Linked DNA regions of Homo sapiens. The protein of the gene in region 2 interacts with the protein of the main gene of each other region in a biochemical or structural test. Each region holds a gene or a part of one and is shown on either strand. Other genes may lie near its edges.

Evidence for each region. The genes of interacting proteins can lie anywhere in the genome.
Region 1: the proteins of FEZ2 (region 2) and NEK1 form a complex in vitro, tested with the Homo sapiens proteins (one study listed by BioGRID).

What each region holds. Positions count from the first base shown.
Region 1 is NC_000004.12:169,602,578-169,609,613, forward strand, and holds part of NEK1 (serine/threonine-protein kinase Nek1), read right to left. Parts: intron 102-7,036; 5' UTR 54-101; coding exon 1-53. UniProt on the Homo sapiens protein: Phosphorylates serines and threonines, but also appears to possess tyrosine kinase activity. Involved in DNA damage checkpoint control and for proper DNA damage repair.
Region 2 is NC_000002.12:36,581,167-36,588,202, forward strand, and holds part of FEZ2 (fasciculation and elongation protein zeta-2), read right to left. Parts: intron 2,304-7,036; coding exon 2,187-2,303; intron 266-2,186; coding exon 124-265; intron 1-123. UniProt on the Homo sapiens protein: Involved in axonal outgrowth and fasciculation.

The sequences.
Region 1 (7,036 bases), on a different chromosome or scaffold from region 2:
GCTTTTCCAAATGAACCTTCTCCAATCTTCTGTAGTCTAACATACTTCTCCATGATTCTTTTTCTAAGGCATCTTTACAGATATGCTAGACATTTAAAAAACTAACAAAAAAGATAAAGCATTTATAACATGAGATAAAACATTATAACTTCATAACAATTTTAATGTTTAATTCAAATTCTAATTCTTTAGTGATTTGCTAACATTTTAAAAAAGGATATTTAATATATTCACTAAAAGTTACACTTTATATACTTTACTAGTACAACCTAATTACATCCAAAAAAGAGAAAAAAATGTGATATTTCAATTTTATAAGAATGCTTTGGAAAGCCAAATACTGCATATACTTAATGTATGGAGAGAAAGGCAAACTTACATGAATTAATTAGTAGCATTACTTTATTTTCTCCAAAAAGAATGAAAACCTAATAATACACTATTTCTTGAAGTTATTTAACTAATCCCCTCTTATTCAACATTCGTTTAAAATGTTTGCTAGTATAGAACAATTTTGGATAGTTTTTGTACACATATTTTAATGTGCTTATTGTAAGGATTTCCTTAGGATAAATTCTGAATTCAAAGAATATGCCCATGTTACAGTATGGCTTTCAAACATATTAAGTGTCTTAACAGAACTGTCTACTAATACGTATTTAGCCAGTAGTGCCTGCTACTAGGTACCCTCATTAACACTGGTTATTATTATTTCTTGTATTTAGGGAGATGTTTACTGTAATGTCATTTATAACAACAAAACACTGGTTGTTATTTATTAAAATCTTTGAGAAGCAATAAAGGGTAGTAGTTAAAGAACACTAAAAAGTTTAAATCTTAGCTTTATCACTTATTTGTTATGTAAACTTAGGCAAGTTACTTATCTCTATGTGCTCAGTTTGGTCACATGTAAAATGTGAATAACCATAGTACATATTTACAGAAGTGTTGGAAGAATTAGTTAATGTAAGAATGTACTGAAAACAGTACTTGGCACATATGAACACTGTGTCACTATTTGTTATTGTTGTTACTCCATACGTCTAATGGGGAAAATGGTGTTTCGTTTTTATTTTGATTTCTTTTGCTTACCAGTGAATTTGAAAAATTCTTCCACATTTATTGAACATTTTTTTTTTTTTTTTTTTAAGACAGTCTCACTCTGAAGCCCAGGATGGAGTGCAGTCACACGATCTCGGCTCACTGCAATCTCCACCTTCCAGGTTCCAGCGATTCCCCTGCCTCAGCCTCCCAAGTAGCTAGGATTACAGGTGTGTGCCACCACACACAGCTAATTTTTGTATTTTTAGTAGAGACGGGGTTTCGCCATGTTGGCTGGTCTTGAACTCCTGACCTCAGGTGATCTGCCCGCCTTGGCCTCCCAAAGTGCTGAGATTAGAGGTGTGAGCCACCATGAGCGGCCACATTTATTGAACATTTCTATTTTTTCTCTTTTGAACTATTCATCCATGTTCTTTAATCATTTTATACTGAGTTGGTCTTTAATTTGTAAAAACTCCTTATGTAATGAAGTCCTTATCTGTCATAAATTATTTTCCCTTATATCCTAGTTGCCTTTAAGTATAAAAGATTATTTTGATATAAACAAATGTATTAATCTTTTCTTTATATTTCTACTTTTAGTATCACACTTAAACCCTTACCATACCAAAACAATTGATTAAGGTCATTAGTATCTTTAGGAATAGTAATTTCAAAAGAGTGGTAGTTTCAGGAGAAGCCAGAATACAATAAGCTAGCTAGTGAAAGCTGAAAAAAGTGTGAGAAAGAGTCATAAGAGCAATAATGTGTACAACCTATTGGCAATATCACCCTTATTGTAGACATACATGAATTTACTATGCTAATCTGAAACTAATAAACATTTAATTCACCTAGCTTGCTCTTTTTTATTTCCATTCATAGCAGGCTTCCAATGTGTGATTCCTTTCTAGGAGAAAATAAGTTTGTCGTGAAACTCTTTTTAAATTTCTGTGGCAGTTTACCATATTTCTCATTGTAAATTAAAAAATCCATGTTCTTATCTCATCCATCAGTGCCAAATTTGTTTTTAACTTTATTTTGCCTCTAAAAATGATCCAATCTCCTTAAATGACAAACATCATATGCTGTGCCTACAAGACCAGACCACAGGCCAGAACTCAGCCTGTGGTAGCACTGATGAGATAAGTATGACTCATGAAATTTTGTGAGAAAGAGCCTTTCTCTACCTTAGAAAACAAGATTGCCTTTAGCAACTTTAAGAGAAACAAGAAATAAACCATTATTATAGCATTTTAGCATCAGTGAGTTAAAGAAGAAAAGTTGTTCCAAATATATTTTCAAGCCCAAGTTGTGTTAACTGGCACAATATAATGGCTATCTGGGCACCAGCCACAATTTAATGATTTTTCCAGAACATGAATGTTTAATATATTACATTACTATGCTACTTACAAAAAAAAATCAAGATAAACTCATCTTAGTAATCTAAATTTCAAAAATTAAATTAAATAATAGCCATATAATGAGATTACTTCACAATCATCATTATTCTGCGACTTTCTGCCAAGAGAGGGAAACAAAATTAGTCAATTTGGCCATTCCTTAAAATTAAGTTGCCAATTCCTTTCTAGGGACCACACTAATAAGACAGAAGCTCCAAAAGTCCCCAGTGTTGCATTCTACTGCCAACAACATTACTGAACATTGTGGTTCTAACTCTATAAAGCAGACCTACTGATCCTGTTAGTAAAGAAAGATGACTCTAATTGCCATCAAATATGTCAAATGCAGACACTTTTCTGAACAACAAAAGACTTGTGGTAGATGACTTTCAGGAAAACAGACAAACTCTCCTTTTTTGTAATGTCAGTGTACAATAAAGGAAGTAAAAGGGAAAACATGAAAAAATAGATTACTTTCAGCATCTTACAATATATTTAACTGAGCTACTTCCTAGTTGTGAGACTTCTCAACTGAATTATAATTCCATAAAATTTTTCATACCAAATGAAATAGAAAACAATAACAAATTGTACTATAGGCTTCCACATACAAAATCATAACTTATAACTGAAGGAACATACGAATCCTGTTTACTTCAGTATTGTAATAAACTCAAATTAATGTTTGCCTTTTCTACCATTCAGTTTCCAACATCAAATGAAAATCACAATACCAACTTTACTCACTCTATAGTGTTCTTAAGGTCTCTAATAATTATATCAATTCAATCTCTATAATACATAGCTGATCCTGAAGATAAGCAACAAGGAAAAAATCAGAGACTTTTTTGATATTTGAGCTTTCCAAAGAGTTATGTCACCTAATAAAGCAATGAATTCAGAATCAAGAGACAAGACTAGCTACATAATCAAACGCTAACCATCTGCCTTTTGTGGACTTCAGTTTCTTTATCTAGAAACACGAAAGATTTAAACCTAATGCCATTTTATAGACCTTGCCAAGTCGACTAGTCTATGACTCAAGGAGAAGAAAATTAAAAAGTCAGAAAATATATAATGTCAACACTGTTTAGAATTGTACTCTTAGCCACAAAGAGTAAGAGTGATGGGGAAAGCCATTCCATCAAAAAATTAAAAGAAGTCATACTAATTTCTTTAGCCTAATTATTTAAAAAGTAAAAATAAATAAACTGTAATCTACAGTTAAGCATACTAGATTGACCCGTACATATTTACCTCTACTACTTGTCCAAACCTGAGGAACATGACTTTAAAGGGATTACCAAAAAGGCAAAACAGAAGAGAAGGCAACAGCAATACAGTTCTAGAAGCTGGCAAACACAAAAGAACATGCAGCAACTGACTTAGGAGAATAGAGAAAAGCTGTACCTTAAGCCAGCAGTGGGAAATAAGTCAGAAACAAGTCAATTCCCACCACAAACTAGCTCAATAATTGGAAGTACTGGGGCATCTAAGAGTGAGGATAATATTAGGACTCAAACAGGATTGGTGAAGAGCTTGTGTAAGAAGTGTCAGACACTTAGTTTGCCTCCTCCACCTCTCCCAGTCAGATAAGTACTCCTCTCCCATCTTGAAAGAAGACCACAGATATCTCTAGATTGGGTACACCAGGCACAACTAAGAATGGAAATCCCATCTATGATCTAGGAGATTAAGTGAAAGTCTACATAATAAATCGTGAGACTCTCTTTCAACCATGATGGTGTTCTTAGTATCAGATCACCTCACCTTCCAAAACAACTTAAAACCTGAACAAAATATATAAAGAAACAGCAATGCATTGAGGGGCTATAATCACCGAAAGGTGGAAACATACTAGTGGGTTCTACATTCATCCCAGCCTTTTCCCTGAAGAGAGTTTCCAAACTGTGCTACAGTACAATGGAGCTCAAGTATAAAGCAGCAGTCTTGCTGAGGAGAGAAAGCGGTCAGAGTTCAGGGCTACCAAAATCCTGAAGAGGAAAAATAATAGAAGGAGTCCAAAAATCTACAGTAAGTTCTGCTCCTGTTATTCTGTTCCTAAACTGTGCATACATGGAGGAGGACTGAAACAGTCTCATCCTAACAAAGCCTAAAAGCAACCATGGATAAAATCAAAGTTATTCACTGATACTTCATCAGACTGCCAAAACAAAACTAACAATTTTTACAAGATACATGTTTCAGAGTCTCTAAGACTTTTCATTCACAATGTCTAGTATCCCATCAAAAAATAATGATGCACATTAAACAAAAACAGATATAGACTCACAAATGACTCAAACATGAAGTTACTAATAGAGGACTTGAAAGTAACCATGATTAATTAATATGTCTAAGAAAACAAGATAAAAAGATGGATAAAACAGATTTTTTAAAAGATGGAGAATTTCAACAAAGAATTAAAATTTTTTTTTAATTTTTAATTTTTTTTTGAGACAGAGTCTCGCACTGTTGCCCAGGCTGGAGTGCAGTGGCGCAGTCTTGGCTCACTGCAAGCTCCACCTCCCAGGTTCACGCCATTCTTCTGCCTCAGCCTCCCAAGTAGCTGGGACTACAGGCGCCTGCCACCACGCCCGGCTAATTTTTTTGTATATTTAGTAGAGATGGGGTTTCACCGTGTTAGCCAGGATGGTCTCGATCTCCTGACCTTGTGATCCGCCCGCCTCAGCCTCCCAAAGTGCTGGGATGACAGGTGTGAGCCACCGCGCCTGGCCTCAAAATTTATTTCTAAAAAGTGGACATTCTAAAACTACAATATAAAATATCTGAAATTAAGAACTCATTCATGGATTTACGGCAGACAGGACACAGCAGAAGGCAGGATTACTAGCCTATAAAATGAACCAATAGAAAATATTCAACAAAAAAACTGAGAGAAAAATATTAAAAAACAACAACACACACCGGGATGGGGGTGGGGGTGGAGAAAGAAATGTATAGGAAGACTTAATATCATAAAGATTTTCATTCCTAATCTCTACAGTTAATGCTGTCCTAATAAAAACATAAGCTTTGGGGCTGGGGGTGATTAGACAGGCTGATTTTAAAGTTCAGACACACACACACATACACACACACACACACACACACAAAGAAGAAGAAGAACAGCCAGAGAAATATTGAAAAAGAAGAGCAATGAAGGAAAATTTGTTTGGCTTAATATCAAAACACATTACAAAGCTACAATAATTATGAAATAGGCAAATCACAGGAAGTCCAGAAATCAAAAAACTTTTAAAACTTGGTTAATAATCATAGTGACATTTCAAATCAGTAGGAAAAAAGATGAATTTTGAAATAAAAAGTTCAAAGCCAGCAGTGAGACAACTGGGTAGCCATGTGGGGAAAAAAAGTTAATTTATTCCCTCATTTTACACCAACCTAAATTCTAGATGCTAAAATACTGAAATGTAAGAAATAAAAGCATAATAGTAATAAAATAAAACATGGGAGAATGACTTCTGTCTTAGAGTGGTTAGCTGAAGCACAACACAAAATCAAAAAACCTTGAGGGATTAATATGACTAGACCAATATTTTAGCTATTACAACGATCTCATTTTTCTAACAAATAAAAAACTCGTACATATTTATAAGACCAAAAAACACAACAATCCAAAAGAAAAGTGGACAAAGGATATGAAGTTAAACGTTAACACTGAGAATGAATACAAATTATGTTAAAATGTGCCACGATACCCAATCTCCTGTAAAACGATATACAATTTTGGCCGGGCATGGTGGCTCACACTTGTAATCCCAGCACTTTGGGAGGCCGAGGCAGGCGGATCACTTGAGGTCAGGAGTTTGATGTCAGGCTGACCAACATGGTAAGACCACTGTCTCTACTAAGAATACAAAAAATTAGCTGGGTGTGGTGGTGCAGGCCTGTAATCCCAGCTACTCGGGAGGCTGAGACAGGAGAATCGCTTGAACCTGGGAGGCAGAGGTTGCAGTGAGCTGAGATCACACCACTCCACTCCAGCCTGGGTGACAGAGCGAGACTCCTTCTCAAAAAAAAAAAAAAAAAAGAAGAAGAAATACAATTTTAAAATACAAGGGGTAAGTTTTATGTTATGTATATTTAACCACAATTTTTTTAAAAAAGCACAAGAGACGGCATGTTTCATCAATTAGAATGGCAAAATTCACAGTTGATTATTGTACTGTACTGTGGGGGAATAGCAGGAAACAATATGGTGGGACTATAAATTGGTACAAGCACTAAGGAAAATAATTTGGCAACATCTACCAAAATTATAAGGGGACAGAAACTTTGATGTAGTGATTCAATTTCTAGCAATTTACCCTACAAATATTTCCAAATGTAGGAAAACAAAGTATCTACAAAGTTATCCTCTGCAGCACTGTTTCTAATAGAGCAAAATGTAATCATTCACATACAGTCAACACAGCAACTTTTAAACTGATATAATTTCTTAATACACTGTTAGATTTTTAGGGATCAGAATAATAAATATGGCATGCTATCATTTGTTTAGTAAAAGGAAATACATAAGTATATATGCTTACAGTTACTCATATATGTGTATAAATATACATATG
Region 2 (7,036 bases):
GTAAATTTGGACACAAACACAAACAGAAGGAGGATGAAATCAAAGCTTTCTGGAGATGATCATACTATACATTTGATACAGACAAAAAGCACAGAAATCATTGATTTCAGCAGGCTCCCTTACTCTCTTCATAACTGCCGGTACTAGACCTCTTGAGAGTTTGAATTTCCTGGGAAAGCATTGAAAGCCGATCTGACTGTGTAGGGGTTTCATCATCTTCTGGGTCCGGTGATTCCTGCATCATTTCTTCAATTTCTTCAATAACCTTCGAAAACACACACACCACTGTTAATCAAATATACAAAAGGAAAATGATCTATCTGGAACACAGTGCTCACCTAAGGCACCCAGAGCAGAAATGCACTGAATTCTCCATTAACCAATGGTGTTCAGGTGTGGATGCTCCAAATAATCAAAATTTTTACTGTAGGAGTGAACATGGTTTATCAAGAAAAAATTACAATATACTAAACACAAACCTAAATAGAATTGGATTTACTACGTCCATCATGATTCAGAAGGCCCTAACATGTCTTGCAAAGTCTAGGTAATCGTGCTACAAACACATAATAATTTACTTCAGACACACCAGAGCTAGATCATACAGTAATCGTTAGAAGAAAGCAAATAACAGAAAATTTACCATAGACATACAAGTGCTCAATTTAAAGGTATCTCATCAAAAATTCTGACATAAAATTTATAAAATACAATAGCACAAAAAAAGTATATATAAATGGGAAATTACCTCTATGACAGCAAAATATTCTTTCAACAGCAGAAAAATAATTTTATATATTAATTCAACGAAAAAAAGGGATTTTTTAAATTACTCAAAAAGTAGAAGTCCAAAGAGAAAAATGCTGTGAAAAGCAGAAAAACTTCAGAAATACATTTGACTTTAAACAATGATCTACTGTCTAGTGCAGTGCTGCTCAAATCTTACAACAGTATCTTGCCCTTTTCCAGATTCTAAAAGTTGAGAAGGATATAGAACTCAGCGAAAATGTAAAGGAAACCCAGGAAAATTACTCAATAGTTAGAAAAAAGGACCTAAAGTTAAAAAAAAAAATTAAACACAATTAAATGAAGGAGTAAGACATCATGAGCATATTTCCATGCTTTATGAATTAACAAGCTTAACAGGTAAGATTTCCACCAAGGAAAAACAAAGGCAAATCTGAAGGAGATGGGATTATGTTAATTATAAGAAGAGTCTCCAAAACAGGAAATATAATAAGGTACAATGAGCCACTCAAGGATCCTACAGAATCTGTTATTCTAACTCTTAAAAAAAGGGAGAGTTTACGGTATTAGGCAGGTCAGTGAGGGGACAATGAATTCTCAAGGTCATGTCTATCCCTAGATTACCCTCTACCTCAAAACAACCTTCCAACCTACTATTACCTTGCTTTTTTAAGCACCACATTCTTCCCACGCCTAGAACAATTCAACCACAAATATGACTAAGGAGGATCCAAATAACACAATTTTAATGTAAATTTTTAATGTACTCCTCCCAAGCTTGCCATAATGTATCTCCTTACTGATCTCATCTTTCCAGCCTAAAAATAGAGTGTGGTAGAACTCACAGTCCGAGTAGCCATGGAACATTTTATTTCAGGAAGAAGTTCTGGCATCACATTTCAACAATACAACAGAGGTGGGAAGAGTATTCAGAAAATGAGAAAGCTGATTCGACTGGTTTTAAGTGAATACAGGGTTGACCTTATTAGCGCATTCCACGGGAATAATGCTCACTTCTTTCTGGGGCACACAATATGTTACTTTAATACATGCTAATGCTTTTTACCCAGGGTTTTGAAGATACTAAATAATTTCTACACAGATACTTTACAGTTTGTCCGTGTTTGGGTAAATCTAAAGAAACAAGGAAATTCACAATATTTTTCTGGTTTGGGGTTAAGCAACAACCTTTCCTTGGTACCTTGCTATAATCTTCAACAAGGCCTCTGTTGGAAACCTTCCCAACTAACATAATCCCTTCTGCTTCAGATCACAAATACTTATTTTTCTCTGTGGAAGAGTTAACTATTAAGCCTGTATAACCAGAAAAAAATAGGAAAGATAAGTAAACCAACAGCCATCATTTACTGTCATAACAAGAAGCCGTTTTTCAGCTCTAGAGTCTCCTTTCCTTGCGTTGCTGAGGATCTCCTCTATACCTGGTCTGCCGTGAAGAGGGGTTCATCATTAACACAGGAGACGATGATTGAGTGCATATCCAGCTGTTCTCTCAGCTCTTCATCATCTGATGTATCAAAGAGCAAACTGTCACTTACCTAAAAACAAAAATACCCATCATTAAAAGCAGGACATCCTCATCAAAACAAAGTTAACAGCTCTGAGTAAAAGAGGCTGCAGAGAAAAGCAACTACTAAGAGCCTTCCCTCAAGAGGGAGAAATTATTACAATCACTCTGTACCAGGCAATGAGTATATATTCATCTTGAACAGAAATGAGAAGAATGTAGAATAAATATGAAATCACTGAGATGCTGCATAAGACTGCTATAAAAGCTGACAGATATGCAGAAAAAAATACGGTATTCATTAGCAAGTCATAGGGAATTACAGTGAATAGAAGGGAGAATATGGGCAGGGTTAGCAACACACACTAAGATTGGTAGACGTTAACATTCTAAAGAAAACATAAAAGTTAGTTACTTGCAAACTAACTTCTAATATCTGAGTAAAAGATGATCAACTCCCTGAAAGGCGGGATCTGTCCATGAGCGTCACACTTAGCCCTTCCAATTGCACATTCCTTCTTAACAAAAAATAATAACCCTAGGTTCCAAAAACATCTTTAAACCTAACTAAGCTGGTGATTCACCACTCACCTCCTCACCATCTTCCACCCTGCTCTGCGCTCCAGGAGGACGACCTTTATGGAAGACATCAAAGGATGCCCTTGCTGTCTGGCTTCCAGGTGGGTTAAACCCCATTGGCAGACACTGGCAGACTGGAAGGTGGGATGGTGAAGGCTGGGCATGTATTTTGCTGTCTTCCTCCCTGTCAGACTGTCATTTGTTGACTATGGCTCTTCACCAAAGCCATAGCTCTGATTAGCAGACTTCTCCCACAAGGCCAATCTCAACAGTTTATGGTAATTTCTCCCTCTCCTTACCTCTTCATGCCCAGGACTGCTAAAGTACCAGTTTCTGTTGCCAGCCCTGGGGGATTGCACCACATCAAGTTTGTTTCCCTTAACCCTGCCCACACCAATATAAACAGCCTTAGAGTTTAGTACCAGTACTGATTGTAAAAACTTTGCCTGAAAAAACTCAGCAGATTAAAATGAACAAGGGAACATCTGTCTATCATCTACCTATCTGTCATGACATGACTATTCAGGTGTTGAATGGAACTGAAACTAGAACTCTATTCCTCAGGAAGGATTAGCACACACTGAGTTTCCAAAGAATAAATGGGCAACAAGGATTACGTAAGAAGCCACCATGTCATTCTATTACATAGTGTAGAACTAACATGATAAAATTTTACCTGGCAAAATTATTTATCCATGCAGAGGATATATGTCTAAAGCTGAGGACACAATGGAATGGATGTAGGTTCCTACTGCTTCCCTAGTTCTTCATAACATGAGCATCTGAAGTTTGCAGGTGAACACAGCCTACAGAGTAAGAAACCTGCACGTGAGAAGGGCCAAGGGAAGAAGCACTGGCACACTGACTTTCCAACATTAGGCTGGGAGAAGGGCCCCATCAACACTGCACGGTCCACCTACAACCCTATAATGCAACTCCAGGCTCCTGCGCAGTGACGACAGCCCTTCTCATTTTATTTCTTACTGCACCATCAGCCTAGCAAAGGCCTGGCCATGACCTTCAACACAGCATCATGAACTAAGAACACTGTGTGGAAAAAAGGAGAATCTAAAAGCTTCCAGGGAGGGAAAAAAAAATCACATTAAAAGGATCAGGAATCAAAATGTCAAGTGAATTCTCAATAGCAACAATAGATGCTAGAAAATAATCGATGTAACTTCCATGTTTGGAGAAATTCCATCCTAGAATCCTATATCCAGCTAAAACAAGTAGGCAGGGGCTAGGATAAAGACATTTTCAGACATACAAGTTCTGAAAAAATTTACCTCTCATGTGCCCTTTCTCAAAAAGCTACCAGGAGGAAAATGAAAAAGAAAAAAGATATGTGGTCTAATAACAAGTGACAAAGAGAATTCTCGTAATGATAGTAAAGTGAAAATCCCAGAATGATGACTGTAAAGCTACACTAGAGAGTAACATTCAGATTAGAATTTTTATTGCAGAGAGCATGGAGAAGAGGGAGAGGTGGGTGGGGAGGGAGAGCAGAAGGACTAGATAGATTACCTAGTGCGGTCCATTTACTAAAATGAGTTCTACGGCTCTATTGAGGCTGAACTGGTCAGCTAATTATAAACTAAATAAACCACAAAAAGGCAGGTAGTATCCTAAGAAAAAACCTAAGTAGAAAAAGAGAAAATGTAAACATAATATATCATAATGGGTCAACTGTGCACATTTAAATAGTAAATATAAATGATGAAGATTAATTCAACCCCAGATGTTATGTAATTACATTGGGAAGATGGGGAAAGGGAAGTTTTTGGGAGGGTATAGTGTCAGGGATTGGCAAAGGACAGAAGAGAGCTAAACCTTCACCCTCTGGGTAGAAAATAAATAAAGTCTAAAATTGAGAAAATAATATCAAGTAAAATGGCATGAGCATGTTATCTGCTAAAAGAAATAGCTGATATCATTTAAAGTGGCCACCTCTGGTAAGGAGAAATCAAGTGGAGCAGAGACTGCCTTTTCATTTAAGTCCTATAGTTCTAATTTACTTTTTAAACTATGACAGCTGTTCCTTTAATAATTTAATTTTTTAAAGAAGGAGAAAGATCAAGAGACTAGGCTCTTGATGAGAGGGGATGTATGATTTCTATACTGTAGAAGATGAAAATGTGGCACACTGTGATCACAAAGGCATGTCGATACCATGGAGTAGACCTACCGATTAGTTTCATCGATCCTTACACTTCGAACACTTCACACCCCCTTCCCAATCACTCTTCCTATGTTGCAACTTGAGGACCATGATTTTGTTTTATTTTTCCCCTTCTGGCTTATAAATACTAAAAGTTTTAATTTTAAAATTAATCCGGGGTGGGCACAGTGGCTCATGCCTGTAATCCCAGCACTTTGGGAGGCTGAGGCGGGTGGATTGCTTGAGCTCAGGAGTTTGAGAACAGCCTGGGAAACATGGTGAAACCCCATTGCTACAAAAAATTAGCCAGGCATGATGGCACATGCCTGTAGTCCCAGCTATTCAGGAGGCTGAGGTGGGAGGATCACTTGAGCCCAGGAGGTGGAGGTTGCAGTGAGCCAAGATGGTGCCACTGCGCTCCAGCCTGGACAACAGAGCCAGACCATGTCTCAAAAAAAAAAAAAAAAATTACTCCTAAGGAAGCCCAGGTTGCCATGGCTCACACCTGTAATCCCAACACTTTGGGAGGCCAAGGTGGGAGGATCTCCTGAGGTCAGGACATCAAGACCACCCTGAGCAACACAGGAAGACCTCGTCTCTACAGAAATATATTTTCTTAAAATTAGCCAGGCATGGCGGTACTCGTGTGTAGTCTAGCTACTCAGGAAGCTGGAGCGGGAAGATCGCTTAAGCCCAGGAGTTGGAGGCTGCAGTAAGCTATGATGGCGCCACTGTACTCCAGCCTGGGCAACAGAGGGAGACACTCTCTCAATCTATCAATCAATCAAATTGCTTCTGTGGAAGACATTATCTTTTTCTTATTTCTACTCTTAAAGGTATAAAGATGCATACAAAAGTCCCTGTCCTGAAAGAAATGCACATGGAAGGAGAAATACAGCACAGAAGATGTTCTTAAGCTGAAATGAATGATAAGCATTCTATCATATAAGTATATTCAAGAATGGCACCAGATTTAGAATAGGGTTATGGCCAAAACACATGAGTAATAACAGTAAACTATTATAATAAATTTCCATGACAACAGAAATGATCCCAGATCATCTTTCCAGAGAGAGAGCCAAGTCCATTCCCCACAGAGATGGCATATGCTAAGAGCTGGAATATCTTTCAGGCTTTGCAAACTAGCCCTGGCTGTCATGGGTATCATTATTCACTCCTCCCTTCAGCATTAAATGTGCCTTCTCTTTGCCAAGCATTCCCATCACTCCTTCCAATGCCAGGGTTAGATACAGACCTGGTGGTACTGTTTCCCTGTATAAAACTGAAGATACATCAAATGGAAAAAATGTGCCCACGTAAGAATTTGAAAGATACCAGTTGCCTTACTCTAAAAAAGACATATCAAATTTAGAAGTGTGCCATCTTAATCTTCAATCAAAGAAAAATTTAAAACTGCAATCTAGCAAACTAGTTTTCCTGAATGTTTTTCTCTTTTTAATGCAAAAACCATTCTTCTTTTGTCAAAAAAAATTTCTATACACTTGGTTTTATAAGTAAAATAATCTAAAGAATGCTTTCAAAGGGTAAATTTTACATAGCTTAGTCACGGCACGAACAGAGCACCAGGTGGCAATGGTAAATACAGTCACTTTGCCAGATTAAAAAAAAAATGCTTAATTATATACCATGTAATAGAATGACGTGATGACTTCTTACATAGTCCTTATTGCCCATTTGTTTTTCAGAAACTCAGTGTGTGCTAATCCTCCCTGAGAAACAGAGTTCTGATTTCAATTCTATTCATCACCAGAATAGTCATGTCACAACAGAGAGATGATAGGTGAATGATCACGTGTTCACTTTCATCTGCTGAGTTTTTCCAGGTAAGGCTGTTTTTTTTTTTATTTTTTGAGACAGAGTCTCGCTCTGTCACCCAGGCTGGAGTGCAGTGGCGTGATCTCGGCGCACTGCAACCTCTGCCTCCCAGGTTCAAGCAATTCTCCTGCCTCAGCCTCCCAAGTATCTGGGATTACAGGCATGCGCCACCACGCCTGGCTAATTTTGTA